Linked DNA regions of Homo sapiens: region 2 is linked to region 1. The links come from fine-mapping of genetic effects on gene expression. A gene starts in region 1. The other region holds a variant in brackets. All regions are shown on one strand. Distances are from middle to middle.

What was found.
Region 2: its variant is fine-mapped to the expression of LPCAT3 in whole blood (TOPMed, PIP above 0.99).

Annotation. Positions count from the first base shown.
Region 1 is chr12:7,015,225-7,023,704 of GRCh38, reverse strand. It overlaps LPCAT3 (lysophosphatidylcholine acyltransferase 3), which reads left to right and starts at 5,229. Exons shown (of 13, transcript NM_005768.6): 1 at 5,229-5,431. The coding sequence starts at 5,281. RefSeq lists a silencer at 4,619-4,878.
Region 2 is chr12:6,977,442-6,985,441 of GRCh38, reverse strand. EMG1 (EMG1 N1-specific pseudouridine methyltransferase) reads right to left here. Exons shown (of 6, transcript NM_006331.8): 6 at 5,506-8,000. It overlaps LPCAT3 (lysophosphatidylcholine acyltransferase 3), which reads left to right. Exons shown (of 13, transcript NM_005768.6): 2 at 1,903-2,010; 3 at 2,660-2,766; 4 at 3,538-3,631; 5 at 3,810-3,847; 6 at 4,260-4,438; 7 at 5,863-5,971; 8 at 6,753-6,839; 9 at 6,935-7,101; 10 at 7,697-7,844; 11 at 7,917-8,000. Among named protein-coding and RNA genes, the nearest start is that of EMG1, 11 kb to the right of the region's middle. The variant T/C (reference allele first, on the strand shown) is at 4,411.

The sequences.
Region 1 (8,480 bases):
GGAAGCACAGCCTCCAGCCACAAACCAGAAACAGATACTTCAAGGGAGGGCCAAAGGGAAGAGAAATTTATGCTGAGTGGGGTGGCCAAATGTACGTATTTAGTACATTATAGGAGTGATGAGTTTTATGAAAGGAGAAACATACTCATGTGCAATTGAGCTTCATGCTTCTCCACGGGCCCCATGTTCAAAAAATGGTGGCATTAAGATGATCTAAGGTAGAGTTTTTGGCCCTCTGGCATCAAAAGGTGAAGCAGAGAACATGAAAACCCTCACTGCATTCTCTGTAGACTGGTCAGAACCACTTCATATTCAAGAGTCTCTTATCAGGCATAAAAGGAGGAGCAATATCAGACAGTTGGTTGATATCACTGGTAGAGTCTTTTGAAAGGGCTAGTTTCTGTTTAGCCCTTAGGTTAGAAAGCCTAAACCGGTTAGGGAGGGAGGGGTGAGCATAAGGAGGCGTGCCTGACCTCATCCCATCATGACCAAGAACTCAGTTTTCAAGGTTACTCTGGGGTCTGCTTTGCCAGGAGAGGGTCCATTAGGTCAGTTAGTGGGGGCTTCGAATTTTACTTTTAGTTTACAAGGGTATAGCCTAGTACTCCTTGGCTAAAAACTTGCACAGCATGTTATTATAATGAATATTGTGAGCAATAATAATACAATTGTAATAACTATTTGTGTGTATCTAAACACATCTAAACATAGAAAAGGTACAGTACAAATATGGTATAAAAGATTAAAAAGGCTGGGCACGGTGGCTCATGCCTATAATCCCAGCACTTTGGGAGACCAAGGCAGGTGGATCACCTGAGGTCGGGAGTTCAAGACAAGCCTGAACAACATGGAGAAACCGTCTCTACTAAAAATACAAAATTAGCCAGGCGTGGTGGCACAGGCCTGTAATCCCAGCTACTTGGGAGGCTGAGGCAGGAGAATCACTTGAACCCGGGAGGTGGAGGTTGCAGTGAGCTGAGATCGTGCCATTGCACTCCAGCCTGGGCAACAAGAGCAAAACTCCATCTCAATAAAAATTTAAAAAAATTTAAAAATTTAAAAATGGTACAGCCGTATAGGCCATTTACCTGAATGGAGCTTGCAGGACTCGCAGTTGTTCTGGGTTAGTCAGTGAGTGTGAAGAGTGTGAGAGTGAATGTGAAGGCCTAGGACACTGCCATACACTACCATATGTAATTGCCCTGTGGGCTTCTTCCTGCCCGCTGCACAGACAAAATCAATTCACTGAGACCATGGCATTGCATTAGAGAAAGATCTTAATTGATGCAAGGCTGACCATGCCACATGGTACATGAAGCTATTACTCAAATCAATCTCCCTGAAAATTTGGAGGCTAGGATTTTTCAAAGACAGTTTGGTGGGCAGGGGCCTACGGTATAAGTGCTGCTGCTTTGTTGGGGATGCAATCATAGAGGTATGGCAAATGATCCTCATGCCCTGACTCCACCTCTGGGTGGGGTCCATAGGACTGGCTGAGTCACGAGTCCAGCTGGGGTTTGCAGAAATGCCAAAATCTGAAAAGACATCCTAAAAGGTCAATCTTAAGTTCTACAATATGATGTTATCTAGAGGCGTAATTGGGGAAGTTACAAATCTGGTGACCTCCTGAACAACGGTTGGTAATCACTTAATTATGCCTACATTTTAGCGGAATTCAGGGCCCTTTCATAAGCCTAACCTTGCAGCCTTTCATTAGTTTTATAAAGGTGGCTTAGTTTGGGAAAGGGCTATTATCCCTGCTTTAAGTTTAACTATAAACTAAATTTCTCTCAAAGTCAGTTTGGTTTATGCCCAGGAATGACCAAAGATAGCTTGGAGGTTAAAAGCATGAGGGAGGCTGGGCACAGTGGCTCACACCTGTTAATCCCAGCACTTGGGGAGGCTGAGGCGGGCAGATCACTTGAGGTCAGGAGTTCAAGACCAGCCTGACCAACATGGCTAAACCCCATCTCTACTAAAAATACAAAAATTAGCTGGGCATGGTGGTGCATGCCTGTAATCCCAGCTTCTTGGGAGGCTGAGGCACAAGAATTGCTTGAACCTGGGAGGCAGAGGTTGCAGTGAGCTAAGACCACGTGCTTGCACTCCAGCTTGGGTGACAGAGAAAGACTCTCAAAAAAAGCAAGATGAAGTCAACTATATCAGATTTCTCTTACTGTCATAATTTTGTAAAGGCAGTTTAATTGGACTGTATAAACACTATATGCTTAGGCTTCACTGAAGTTATAAATATATATATATAATTTTCTTTTTTTTTTTTCGAGACGGAGTCTTGCTCTGTCACACAGGCTAGAGTACAATGGCGCGATCTCAGCTCACTGCAACCTCTGCCTCCTGGGTTTAGGCAATTCTCCTGCCTCAGCCTTCCAAGTAGCTGGGATTACAGGCACCCACCACCATGCTCGGCTAATTTTTGTATTTTTAGTAGAGTCAGGGTTTCACCACGTTGGCCAGGCTGGTTTCGAACTCCTGACCTCAGGTGATCCGCCCGCCTCAGCCTCTCAAAATACTGGGATTACAGGGGTAAGCCACCATGCCCAGCTTTTTTTTTTTTTTTTTCTGAGACGGAGTTTTGTTCTTGTTGCCCAGGCTGGAGTGCAATGGCATGGTCTCGGCTCGCCGCAACCTCCATGTCAGGCCTCTGAGCCCAAGCCAAGCCATCGCATCCCCTGTGACTTGCACATATACAACCAGATGGCCTGAAGTAACTGAAGATCCACAAAAGAAGTAAAAATAGCCTTAACTGATGACATTCCACCATTGTGATTTGTTCCTGCCCTACCCTAACTGATCAATGTACTTTGTAATCTCCCCCACCCTTAAGAAGGTACTTTGTAATCCCCCCACCCTTAAGAAGGTTCTTTGTAATTCTCCCCACCCTTGAGAATGTACTTTGTGAGATCCACCCCTGCCCACAAAACATTGCTCTTAACTTCACCGCCTATCCCAAAACCTATAAGAACTAATGATAATCCACCACCCTTTGCTGACTCTCTTTTCGGACTCAGCCCGCCTGCACCCAGGGAAATAAACAGCCTTGTTGCTCACACAGAGCCTGTCTGGTGGTCTCTTCACACGGACGCACATGAAACTCCATCTCCCGGGTTCAAGTGATTCTCGTGCCTCAGCCTCCCAAGTAGCTGGGATTACAGGAGCCGGCCATCACGCCTGGCTAATTTTTTTGTATTTTTAGTAGAGACAGGGTTCCACCATGTTGGCCAGGCTGGTCTCTAACTCATGACCTCAGGTGATCCACCCGTCTCAGCCTCCCAAATTGCTGGGATTACAGGCCTATATATATAATTTTTGTTTTTTTTTGCAAGACAGAGTCTCGCTCTGTCTTTCAGGTTGGAGCGCAGTGTCATGATCACGACTCACTACAGCCTCAACCTCCCAGGCTCAAGTGATCCTCCCACCTTAGCTTCCTGAGTAGCTGGGACTACAGGCATGTTCCACCATGCTCATCTAAATTTTATTTTATTTTTTTTGTAGAGACAGGGTCTATGTTGCCCAGGCTGGTCTCCAACTCCTGGGCTCAAGCAATCTTCCCACCTCAACCTCCCTAAGTACTAGGATTACAGGCATGAACCACTGTGCCCGGCCAATATAAGGCATGCAAAACTATACTAATTTTCCTTTCTGGATATATGCTGTATGTAAAGTATTAAAATAGGCATGGGATTGATAAATACCAAAGTCAGCAAAGTGGTGACCTCTGAGAAAGGAAGGAGGGAAATGCCCTCAGGAAGGGATATACCGGCTTTTCAAATGTATAGGTGATGTTTGTTTCTTAACCTGGAGAAGTTATATTATCCTCTACTTTTCCGTGTGAATGAAATATTTTGTTTTTTAAAATCTTGCCCAAAATGGGAGTAGGGGTAGGGAATTTGACAGACCTAGGTTTAAATTCTGTCTGCCGCTTACTTGTAAAGGAACTTACCCAGTTTCTTAATTTCTCCAAGCCTCTGTGTCTGTAAGAGGACATCATCATAATAAATATTCTATTGCGCAGCCAAAGCAAGTGAAATAATACGGATGAAAGTGCTTTATAAAGTGCAAGTGCTACAGAAGTATAAGCTGTAATTTTACAAGAATGCGCCACAAATTATTGTAACTAAGAGTTATTGCAAGAAACTCTTAGCATTCCTTTGTTACATACTCTCACAGAACCTTGACCCTTTCCTTCAGAGCACTTACCTTCTCTTGCAATAACACGTTAATTGATGCTATTATTTGTGCATCCTCCCACTCCGTGGCTCTGGGCTCCTGATTCTATTCCCAAGCCCAGCACAGTCCCTGGCATATGGTAAGTGCTCGACAGATTTTTTTTTTTTTTTTTTTGGCGTAATCTTAACAGGATTACCTGTAGGAAGTGAGAATGAAAAGCAGGGAGGGGAAACAGGACTCTTCTGTTTTACATTTCTATACTGTTATAACTTTTATCATAAACATGTATTACTCAGTGCAAAATTATTTGAATTTTTAATTAAAATAATAAGTGTTAAATAGGCATATCTTAATTTCATCGCCTCTAGGGGGAAGGTCATGTTTTACTACAGGAAACTGCATGGAAAAGGGATCCATGAAATAAAAGGAGCAGACAATGTCTGTTCCTGGGGCACTGGGCTTTCCGCTGAACCTCCGGGAGTGAAGGCGACGAGTCTAACAACCTAAGAATTTAAGAACGGGCCGGGAGGCGCCGTTAGGGGGCGCGCGAAAGGCGGCGCGGGCGTTCCCGCCTCCCCGTTACATGCCCCAGTAACCCCAGCGCCGGCGACCGGGAGTAACCTCGCGCGCGGGCGGCCCCCCCGCGTCCAGACTCTCGCCTGCTCCCGCCTCAGCCAATGGGAAGGCAGCGAACCGGCCGGCCGGACGGTCGCCCCGGAGGGCTCCTCCTGGGAGCATTTCGAACGGAGTTGAACTGTCGCCGGGCCACGGGCTCAGACCTTTCCAATGGCAGCTCTGGGTCCCGACGCCAAGCCCCGCCCAGCCCTGAGCCTCCCCGTGTGCATTCTCGGCAGGAGTCACCTTTGCCTTACAAACCTTCAGACCCGCCCTCTTCCTACCTTGCCGCGCTAGGCCCCGCCCTCTGCGCAGGTCGGCCAATAACGGGGTGAGCTGGCGCCGCGGGGCGGGCCTCCAGCCAATGCGCACGCCGTGGGCGGGCCCCGAGCCGGAATTGGGGGTGAAGCGATAGCGTTTTGCCCGCATTCGGGGCGCGCGGAGCTGGGGGGTCCCTGTGGGGCTCCCGGAGTTAAGATGGCGTCCTCAGCGGAGGGGGACGAGGGGACTGTGGTGGCGCTGGCGGGGGTTCTGCAGTCGGGTTTCCAGGAGCTGAGCCTTAACAAGTTGGCGACGTCCCTGGGCGCGTCAGAACAGGCGCTGCGGCTGATCATCTCCATCTTCCTGGGTAAGGACCCTCCTGCCTCCCTCCGCCCCTCGCGGAGTCCCCGGGGAGTAGGGGAGGAATGGGGACAGGACCTCCCTCTCTTCCCGGAGCCACCCGGGAGGGCTGTGCCGGGTGCGGGTGTGAATCCTGAAGCACACCAACAGCTACTGAGGGAAGACAGAAGTCCTGTCTCGAGTCTGGGGCGCTGTGCCCTCTGAACCTCTTCATCTTTCTCTTCAACCCCTGCCATGCCCTCTGGCCTCTCAGTCGGGCCCCCGCCCTCTTGTGCCAGGCTCTACCCTTGCTCCCACGACCTGTCTTTATTTGTCGCTCTGTTGAGTTCCACTGTCTGGCCATGTGTCCTGCTCTGTCATTAATAACCACCCCGCACACGCGCGCATCTCATCGGTAGGCATAGGGCCCCTAACTTTAGCCCTTTCGGCCTTTTCAGCCCCATATTCCATATTTCATATTCTGAGCGCCTGTTTTGCTTATTGCCAGCTTATATTATACTTTCGTCTCTTTTCTGTCCCAGTCCTACTATTTTCTTTTTATACCATGTTGCTTTTTTTATTTTCCAAGCCACCTACCTGTCATTTACCCTGGAATATCATTTTAATGCTGGACTTGGGAAACAGGACTAACAACCTCCTTAAAATCGATCCATACTATTCCAAGCGTTTATTACACGTGTGGTTCAAAGGATGTGGTGTATCTGAATTTATGCCACAACAAGCTGTATTACAACTGGTTTATAGGCTTTTTTACCGCATCCTCACTCCATGGTTTAATACATGGAGGTAGCATAGTACAATGGAAAAAAGTATGGGTTTTGAAGGCAAACAAATCAGATCCAGCCTTGTTGCTGCTCACAAACTGAAGGACCCTACGCAGGCCGCAAAACCCTCTGGGCCTAATTTCCTTATCTATGAAATGAGGACAACAGTGCCTACCACATAGGATTGCCATAAAGTCCTGTAGAAGGGCCAAGATTGGGAAGTACCTGTACATATATATACATAAAATTTAAGCAGTTGGAACGTTTTATGAAGGTTATAGAACTTTAGGAGCGGGTGAGTGGGAAGGATTAAGCAAAAGCTGTAAGTGGTGATAAGGAAACAGGACTGGGGCTAGAGCAGAGGGTTAGAGGTCTGAACCATGAGAAGTTTGAGATAAAGTTGGGCAGGTGTGGAAAGCCTTAAATGCCAGAGAGAAGTTTGGCGTTTATCCAGTATTCAGTAGAAACACTGATATATAATATCACCAGAGGGTGTTAACCCAATCTAGATAATGGGATAGGCATTAATTCATATTTAAACAACCTTGCCTAATAGCATTGTTACTTTCCTATTACATATCAAACCAAGATCTTCCTTTCTTCCAAATAAAGATCACCTTTTTCTTCCTCTGTGGAATCGTAAGATTTTAAAGATGGAATGGAACTGGGGTTGTGCAGTTTGCTCAGTGTCACCCAGACATCATCCAAATTTATCAGCACCCTAGTCTAGGCTTATTTGCACTACACCAGCTTTGAACTTCCTACTCTTTCATCCTTGTTTCTGACCCAGTTATTTTTGACATTGTAATTAGCAATTAGTGTTTACATTTGACAGGACGCAGCGGCTTATGCTTATAATCGTAACACTTTGGGAGGCCAAGGTGGGAGGAACGCTTGAGGCCAGCCTGGGCAACATTTTATTTGTCTCTACAAAAAATTAGGCCAGGCGCAGGGGCACATGCCTGTAATCCTGGCATTTTGGGAGGCCAAGGTGGGCAGATCGCTTGAGGTCAGGAGTTTGAGACCAGCCTGGCCAACATGGTGAAACCCCATCTCTCCTAAAAGTATAAAAATTAGCTGGGCATGGTGGTGGGCACCTGTAATCCCAGCTACTTGGGAGGCTGAGGCAGGAGAATCACTTGAACCCTGGAGGTGAAGGTTGTAGTGAGCCAAGTTAGCTCTACTGCACTCCAGCCTGGGTGACAGAGCAAGACTCTGTCTCCAAAAAAAAAAAAAAAATTAATAAAAAAATGAGCTGGGCGTGGTGGCTCATGCCATGCCTGTGGTCCCAGCTACTCCCGAGATTGAGGTGGGAGGATCACTTGGGCCTGGAAGTTTGAGGCTACAGTGAGCCGTGGCACCACTGCACTCCAGCCTGAAGGATAGAGCAAGACCCTGTCTCAAAAAAAAAAAAAAATTGTATTACATTCATTAGTTAGGAAACTGTTGGTTTCTCAACAATAAATTCAGAATGTAACACAAGTAGCAACCAGTTATAAGGGGCAATCTGTTAAATGGAGTTAGGGCTGGAATTAGGACTTGGAATTCAACTTTTGTTTGTTGACATAAAGAATTCAACTTTTGTTTGTTGACATAATCACATATTGCCTGTGCACTCCTGCTGGGCTATTGCTGTGTACTGTCACGGGGCATACAGATGACTAGGAAATTGTTTTCTCCATATCCCACTCCTCTTCTCTCATCTTCTCTCATTACCACCAATCATCAAAGTAATAAACACTTGGTGTAATGCATCTACCACACTCCCGAGCCCCCTTGCTCATTCTACCATTTCCCACACCCTGCCTTCCTATCTCACATACCCTGTTGCCTTCAGTAATTCATAGTATTTCTCATTTTTAGATCAACTTGGGGCTTCAACTTGCCTCCTATCAGGTATAGCTCATCATGTGGACGGGTAGGATTGTATTCCTAGTAGGCACAGTTTAAATACATACATATAAATATAAATTGATTAAGCTTGATGTGTGCGTGGTAGGAGTGCATTTTGGTTGTAAATATGTTTCCCTTACAAAGGTTATTACCATTTCTGTGTATTGTAACCTAGAAACCAGTAGCCTTTCAGCAGTGGAGTTCCTGGTTCTTGAACCCAGCTCTCTCAGGGAACTGGGATACTGGAGGAAATCCTTGCTGGAGGTACCAAGAAAGCCTGTAGTCCAAAATGATTTCTGGTTCACTTTCCACTGATTAGATTAATTCAGGTTAAAAACACCTCCCTAAATGCAAATACCCCAAGGGAAGAGTTAGGTATATCATTCACATTTTCAAGTG
Region 2 (8,000 bases), 38 kb after region 1:
TGCACCAGCCAGTACAGTTTTTTGTTTTGTTTTATTTTGGTTTTTTGAGACGGAATCTCGCTCTGTCGCCCAGGCTGGAGTGCAGTGGTGCCATCTCAGCTCACTGCAAGCTCCGCCTCCCGTGTTCATGCCATTCTCCTGCCTCAGCCTCCCTAGTAGCTGGGACTATAGGCGCCCGCCACCACACCCGGCTAATTTTTTTTTTTGTATTTTTAGTAGAGACGGGGTTTCACCGTGTTAGCCAGGATAGTCTCGATCTCCTGTCCTCATGATCCGCCCGTCTCAGCCTCCCATAGTGCTGGGATTACAGGCATGAGCCACCGCGCCCAGCCTTTTTTTTTTTTTTTTTTTTAATGTATGGGGGAAAAATGACTAGAAGGACAGAAACCAACATATAACATGATTGTGTGCATTTACTTATTTAACAAATAATTGAGCAATTTATTTCTGTATGATACTATTCTAAGCGTTTTAGAGTTAAGCAAACTCACAGTAAACTGTATTGCCCATGATAAAAACTGCAGTTACATAATTTAAAAGCAAGAATCGCAGCAATTCATCAGGCACAGTGACTCACGCCTGTAATCCCAACACTTTGGGAGGCCAAGGCAGGAAGATTCCTTGAGCCCAGGAGGTCAAGGCCAGCCTGGGCAACATAGTGAGAACTCATGTCCACAAAAATTACAAAATAGCCAGGCATGGTGGCAAGCACCTGTGGTCCCAGCTACTCAAGAGGCTGAAGTTGGAGGATCACTTGAGCCCAGGAGGTCAAGGCTGCAGTGAGCGATGATCGTGCCACTGCACTCCAGCCTGGGTGACAGAGCAAGAGACCCTGTCTCAAAATAAATAAAAATAAAAGCAAGAATTGCAGAAAGTATAAACCATGACCAACTCAAGAGAATAATCAATGAAAGAATAGGCAGAATGTCTTTCCAAAAAGCAGTTGAGAGATCCCCATCCTCCACATATGCACTAGTGCAGTGGGGATGTTGCCAGGCATGGCCGCCAGACCTCTAGATAGAACACTGAAGGTGAGTCTGCAGTAAAGCCATGGAATGTGCTAATTTTAGTTTAGGAATACCAAATTTTATTGACCGTTTTTAATTCAATAAGCAACCCTTGGCCATGTATAATCAGTTCATGACCCATCAGAAGATCCTCTGTGGTTCACTCATGGCCTTTGGACTATACTCTGAATCATGGCTTTAGAAGACATTTTTTTAGTATACTTAAATGGATTTTATAACTTGGTTGATGCCCAGATTACAGACTGTGAGGAGTATCTCCACATAACTTGTAACTGCTATATATGCAGTCAGCAATTCCAGTATTTAGCCTGATATTAATTTATATTTTTCCTCATAATCTGATAATACAGTGCTAGCAAGATAGATCACAAAGTGTAAATGAGTGTTTCTGGAGCATAGATGGGTACGCTCAAATCTTTGTATCTTGTTTTTTAATAGAGACGGGGTTTCGCTATGTTGCTCAGGCTGGTGTCGAACTCCTCGGCTCAAGCAATCCCCTTGCCTCAGCCTCCCAGAGTGCTGGGATTATACATGGGAGCCACCATGCCTAGCTTCCTTGTATCATTTTTTAAAATTCAAGTAAGAGAAAATGTCTGGCAATAGTTCATAAGCTATAAATGAAACCTAGTCTTAGGACCCAGCTTTATATTGCCTCAATCAAATATTAATATCTTTAGTTCAAAATTTGTATTTACAAAAAACTTTTGGTTCTTGGGGATACCGTTATTGCCTTCTCTGTTGCCATCCATATAATGTATGTTGTTTTTTTTTTCTCTCTCCCTCTGGGCTGCGTTTCATGCCAGATAAACTTCCAAACCAAACTGGGATGGCACCAGGCACAAATAACACTCTTCTTATCTTTTCCCCCATCTAGGTTACCCCTTTGCTTTGTTTTATCGGCATTACCTTTTCTACAAGGAGACCTACCTCATCCACCTCTTCCATACCTTTACAGGCCTCTCAATTGCTTATTTTAACTTTGGTGAGTAAACTAAATTAGCAGTGACACCGCAATTAGTGGGAACCTGGAAGGAACAGACTTGAACAAAATTTCCTTGAGAGAATCTAATAGGTAGGGAAGTTATAATGCTCCCACTTGCAAAGAGGGTTGTATGAAGAGGAACACAGCTTAACTTTTCCTTTTTTTCTTTTATGTACATTCTTCTGTCAGATAAAAACATTTTGAGGGTGGTTACCCTTGCCATACCTCATCAACAAAGAATCCTCAGTTTCTCTGTGCTGTGGATGTAACTGAATGACCGAGCCAAGCAGTCCCCACTTAGATTCATTCTTCACTTCAGACATTCAAAAATACAGTAACAAGCTGGGTGTGGTAGCCCGGAATTCAAGGCTGCAGTGAGCTATGATTGAGCTACTGCACTCAAGTCTGGACAACAGAGCAAGTCGCATCTCTAAAAAAACAAACAAAAAAAGAAAAGAAATAAAATAACACCCTAATAATCTTTTTTATTTTAATAAATAATTTCCATCCTCTCCTCCAAAACATGAGGTTATTCTGAAAAAAAAGATCCTGATGCCAACATTTTTTCTTTATATATTACGTTGTGATTGGAAGTCTCAGGACGGTGGGAGTGTAAAAACCAGGCTAAATTCTCTCTTCTTGCATCCAGGAAACCAGCTCTACCACTCCCTGCTGTGTATTGTGCTTCAGTTCCTCATCCTTCGACTAATGGGCCGCACCATCACTGCCGTCCTCACTACCTTTTGCTTCCAGATGGTAAACGTCTTTCCCTTAGCAGCTCAGGCTACAGCTGACAGCGGTTCAGGGGACAGGGGTAGGCAGGGGACTGTGGTATAGAAATTAGCAGACCTAATTTCTAACCCCTCTCCCAGCACTTAGCAGTATGACTTCAGGTAGGTGGCTTATCACAGGCCCAAGTGTTCCATCCACAGATTGTAATGGTAACTCTTTGCCTGCCTCAAGGAAGGGCCACCAGCTAACCCTTTGCATACTGTGCCATTAGGCTCTTTGGTTTAACCCACTATCCAGGAGCAGAGTCACTTCAAGGCAAGACAGAAAAGCAACTTAGAATGAGTTAAAGAACCTAAGCCTAGGCCAGGCAAAGTGGCTCACACCTGTAATCCCAGCACCTTGGGAGGCCAAGGCAGTCAGATTGCTTGAGCCCAGGAGTTTGAGACTAACCCGGGCAACATGGTGAAACCCCATCTCTACAAAAAAAATACAAAAATTAGCCCTCCAGCCTGGGCAACATGGTGAAACAAAAAAAATTAAAAATTAGCCGGGTGGGGTGGCATGCACCTGTGGTCCCAGCATCTAAATTCTCATCTCAGTTTAGCCCTCATTTTGCCAAGAAGCCTTGAGCAACGCTCTTCCCATTACAGGTTTTCAGCACCTCCATTTGTAGGAATTTATTAAGGCTTTTAATGATGGGATGAGGAGAAAGGAAAAAGGAAAGAGAACATTGAATTTCAGAGCAAGGAGAAGAAATAGTAGTGATGCTAGAATAAATACTTCTGCCTCTCCTAGGCCTACCTTCTGGCTGGATACTATTACACTGCCACCGGCAACTACGATATCAAGTGGACAATGCCACATTGTGTTCTGACTTTGAAGCTGATTGGTGAGTGATGGTCACTGCCTGCCTTCCTTACATGTAGGTCCCTCCCCCATCTCACTAAAAACTTCCTCGGCACCCCCCCTCCGCCCCCCGCCATACACTTCTGGCTGCACTCAGTCTACAGGCCACATCCTCAGTGTCCTCTCCCACCACCCTACCCATCCGTTCTCTCTCTGCTCAGGTTTGGCTGTTGACTACTTTGACGGAGGGAAAGATCAGGTAAGTACCCATTCATCGGCAGAGAGGTTCAAGACTTAATGAAAGGGAAGAAAAAAGTTGTTAACAAAAGACTGAACCCAAATTCCAGAGCGGAGCCTCTCCCTCATTCCCCAGCCTGTGCAATCTCCCTTTCAGATAGCACTGAGCAAGGATCAACAAATCTAATTTGCCCAGGATCCAGCTCTTGCACAAAGTCCAGAGATCAATGCCAGCAAGGCATTTGCTAAAGCAGCAACAGCCAGCTATGCACACACATACGCATTTCCACAAGAAGCAACTATTTGTCATCCCCCAAAGAGAAGGCTATTTGAAGAACCCCAGTCAGTGGGGCACACAGGTGGGGAACACTCAAAGTGGCTCTTGTGGGGAGATTCAAGGCTATCCTGAACCATGCATTCTCTTCTTGGCATAGAATTCCTTGTCCTCTGAGCAACAGAAATATGCCATACGTGGTGTTCCTTCCCTGCTGGAAGTTGCTGGTTTCTCCTACTTCTATGGGGCCTTCTTGGTAGGGCCCCAGTTCTCAATGAATCACTACATGAAGCTGGTGCAGGGAGAGCTGA[T/C]TGACATACCAGGAAAGATACCAAACAGGTAATTGCCCCTCTTGGTCCAGATGTTTGTGTAGGTATTTCACTCACTCTGAAGTGACTCTTCTGAAAGCTGCATTCTCCAGCATGACCCTGGCATAGAGACCTGAGTCATGCAGGCCCTGGACTGTTGTAACAGGCACTCTGTGCCAGGAGTGGGCCCTTTTTAGTTTAGGGTTCTTCCAGTTATCCATTCTAACACTAGTACAAACATAAAAATCCACATTTATGCCACAGGATTTTGCCTGAACCAGTCACATTTCTGCCTTTAAAGCCTATTTTCATGTATATATGAAATATATTTATGATTGATAGGTAGGTAGGCAGGTTGATAGGTAGGTAGGTAGATAGAGGCTGGGCACAGTGGTTTCACCTCTATAATCCCAGCACTTTGGGAGGCCGAGGTGGGAGGATCACTTGAGCCCGTGAGTTCTAGACCAGCCTGGCAACATAGAGAGACTCTGTCTCTACAAAAAAATACAAAAATTATCAGACATAGTGGCATGCATCTGTAGTCCAAGCTACATAGGAGGCTGAAGTGGGAGAATTGCTTGAGTCCAGGGGAGGTGGGTCAAGGCTGCAGTGAGCTTTGATCACACCACTGCACTCCATTCTGGGCAACATAGCAAAATCCTGTCTCAAAAATATTTATCAGTAGGAAATGCAGGAGGGCACAGTGGCTCATGCCTGTAATGCCAACGCTCTGGGAGGCCAAGGCAGGAGGATCACTGGAGGCCAGGAGTTCAAGACCAGCCTGGGCAACATAGTGAGACCCCATCTCTACAAAAAAAAATTATCCAGGCAAGGTGGTACATGCCTATAGTCCCAGCTACTCAGGTGGCCAAGGCAAGGGGATCGCTTGAGCCCAGGAGTTCAAGGCCACAGCGAGCAATGACTATGCCTCTGTACTCTAGCCGGAGTGGCAGAGCAAGGCCCTGACTCTAGAAAATAAAAATTAAAATGGTAAAAAAAAAAAAAAAAAAAAAGTTTAATTGCCAGAAGAATTCCTTCACTGAGAACTTGTCCATCCTGTGTTTCAGCATCAATTCAACCAAGAAATGAAGGAGCAGATTCAAAGTGGTTATTTTTATTATCTTACCTCCACTGGGTTTTCAGTCCCAATGGAGATTGTGAGACCTGGCAAGACCTTGAGATCAGTAGCATCCCTGAGGGGTAAACACAAGACTGGTCCACTGTCTGCTGCCCTGACTTTCCTACAACTCTTAAGAGGTTTGCAGTCCCCATTCCTCATAGCCAGCCATAGAAATCTTTCCCTGAAACAGGAAACACTTTGGGCAGCAGAGCTTCTCATCCCATTCCAGGTAGACAACCACACCCCTAAACACTCCTCTCCATAACTGAAGGTCAGAGGGTGAAGGGAATAGTCTCTGCTCTCTGTGACCAGGAACTTCACTCGTTCCTTTCCAGCATCATTCCTGCTCTCAAGCGCCTGAGTCTGGGCCTTTTCTACCTAGTGGGCTACACACTGCTCAGCCCCCACATCACAGAAGACTATCTCCTCACTGAAGACTATGACGTGAGTGTCTACTAAAGCAGCAGCAGCATGACTGCACCAGAGCTAGAAAATGGACAGGCAAGGATCCCTACAGATAGCAGAGAAGTAGGAAATATCATCTACAAGTGCATGTTGGTTTTGCTCTAGATCTGTGAGTTGTCAATGCCAGCCGTGCTGGGACATGTTCATCAGCCAGCACTGAACAACCTTCGCGGGCACAGGGCTGTGCCAGGTGCACATTTAGCACCCGTTGCCTTCTCTAGGAGCCGCTCCTAGCTTGCCTTATCACATCCACGTGACCCCTCAGAGCACAGCAGCTTCTGATTCTCCATCCTATTTTCTTCTCTTGACTGATACATTTGGGCACTTCTAGGGAATTCAGAAACCAAGGGAAGGGGGGAAGTGCTGGCTTTTGCTCCTGCCCAGCTGAAAGGCTTGAAAACAGTTCAGTAATTCTGGGCAGGTTTCTCTCCTTAAATTAAAATCCAATATGGGCCCCTCTGTACTTAACATTCCAAATGCTCATTCCAAACACTTTGCCAACGAAGGCAAACAGTAGAGAAGTTAAATACAGTGCTGCCCTTGAGGCTCTCCAAGGGAAAGGCGAATGAATATTCTCCAGGCCCTCTGCTTATTCCTCTCTGCCTATTGTGAAGGCAATCAGGCCAGACTATTGAGGGCATCTGGCAGCAGGACTCAGGCAGGTATGAAGTAGCCAGCCACAAGTGTGAAAAGGAAGAGTGCTGAGAGAAACTGCCTAGTCATGTGATATCCCTAATGCACTGTGCTTTCTTCCCTCAAGAACCACCCCTTCTGGTTCCGCTGCATGTACATGCTGATCTGGGGCAAGTTTGTGCTGTACAAATATGTCACCTGTTGGCTGGTCACAGTAAGTAGAAAAGTTGAAACAAGGTCCTATTTAGACAAGCCATGGGGGCCAGTATGGGGAGTGGCAAGAGCCCTAACTGAGCTATTCCCTCTCAGGAAGGAGTATGCATTTTGACGGGCCTGGGCTTCAATGGCTTTGAAGAAAAGGGCAAGGCAAAGTGGGATGCCTGTGCCAACATGAAGGTGTGGCTCTTTGAAACAAACCCCCGCTTCACTGGCACCATTGCCTCATTCAACATCAACACCAACGCCTGGGTGGCCCGGTGAGCTGCTGGTGGGGAGCCTGGACCCTGGTTCCTTCCTTCCACTGTCTTCCCAGATTGGAGGGCAGGGGTGTACCATGTCACCCCTATGCGTCTTTCCCATCTGGGCAGAACCCCCTGTCGCTCACACTGACTTTGACCCCCACCTATACCCCCCTCCCAAAAAAACCATTACTGTCATATTTGAAAAAAAGGCAAGATATAAAAGTGCGTTAAGACCTGGGTGTTACTCCAGCTCTGCCAATGGACTTATGTCCTCCACTGCCCTGTTTATCAACAGCTTTACTTGTTTGTCCCCACCACTAGAGTGTGGGCAGCTTGAGTAGAGTGTCTGGTTCACCACTGATCTCAGCATCAGCCTCAGTCACTGCTGCTGAACCAAGTGGCTCGTGCGCACACGGTCTCCAGCTCCGCCTTGGGTCTGCTTTCCATCTCTAAAAGTAATCAGTCAGCACTGCCTCCTGTACCCTCTGGGGGCTACACGTGGGAACCCACCAGCACTCCAATCCAATCCTCAGGGTGAGGACCCAGAGGCAGGTGGCGGGATGCAAGGACCAGTCAGTTTGAGGGTCGCCCCACCCACCCTTTTCTCCAGCTACATCTTCAAACGACTCAAGTTCCTTGGAAATAAAGAACTCTCTCAGGGTCTCTCGTTGCTATTCCTGGCCCTCTGGCACGGCCTGCACTCAGGATACCTGGTCTGCTTCCAGATGGAATTCCTCATTGTTATTGTGGAAAGACAGGTAGGCCTCCAGGGTGGGGGTGAAGGGGAATATAAGGGACAAGATGCTGATGAGCTCCTCCTCCCTCCCCAGGCTGCCAGGCTCATTCAAGAGAGCCCCACCCTGAGCAAGCTGGCCGCCATTACTGTCCTCCAGCCCTTCTACTATTTGGTGCAA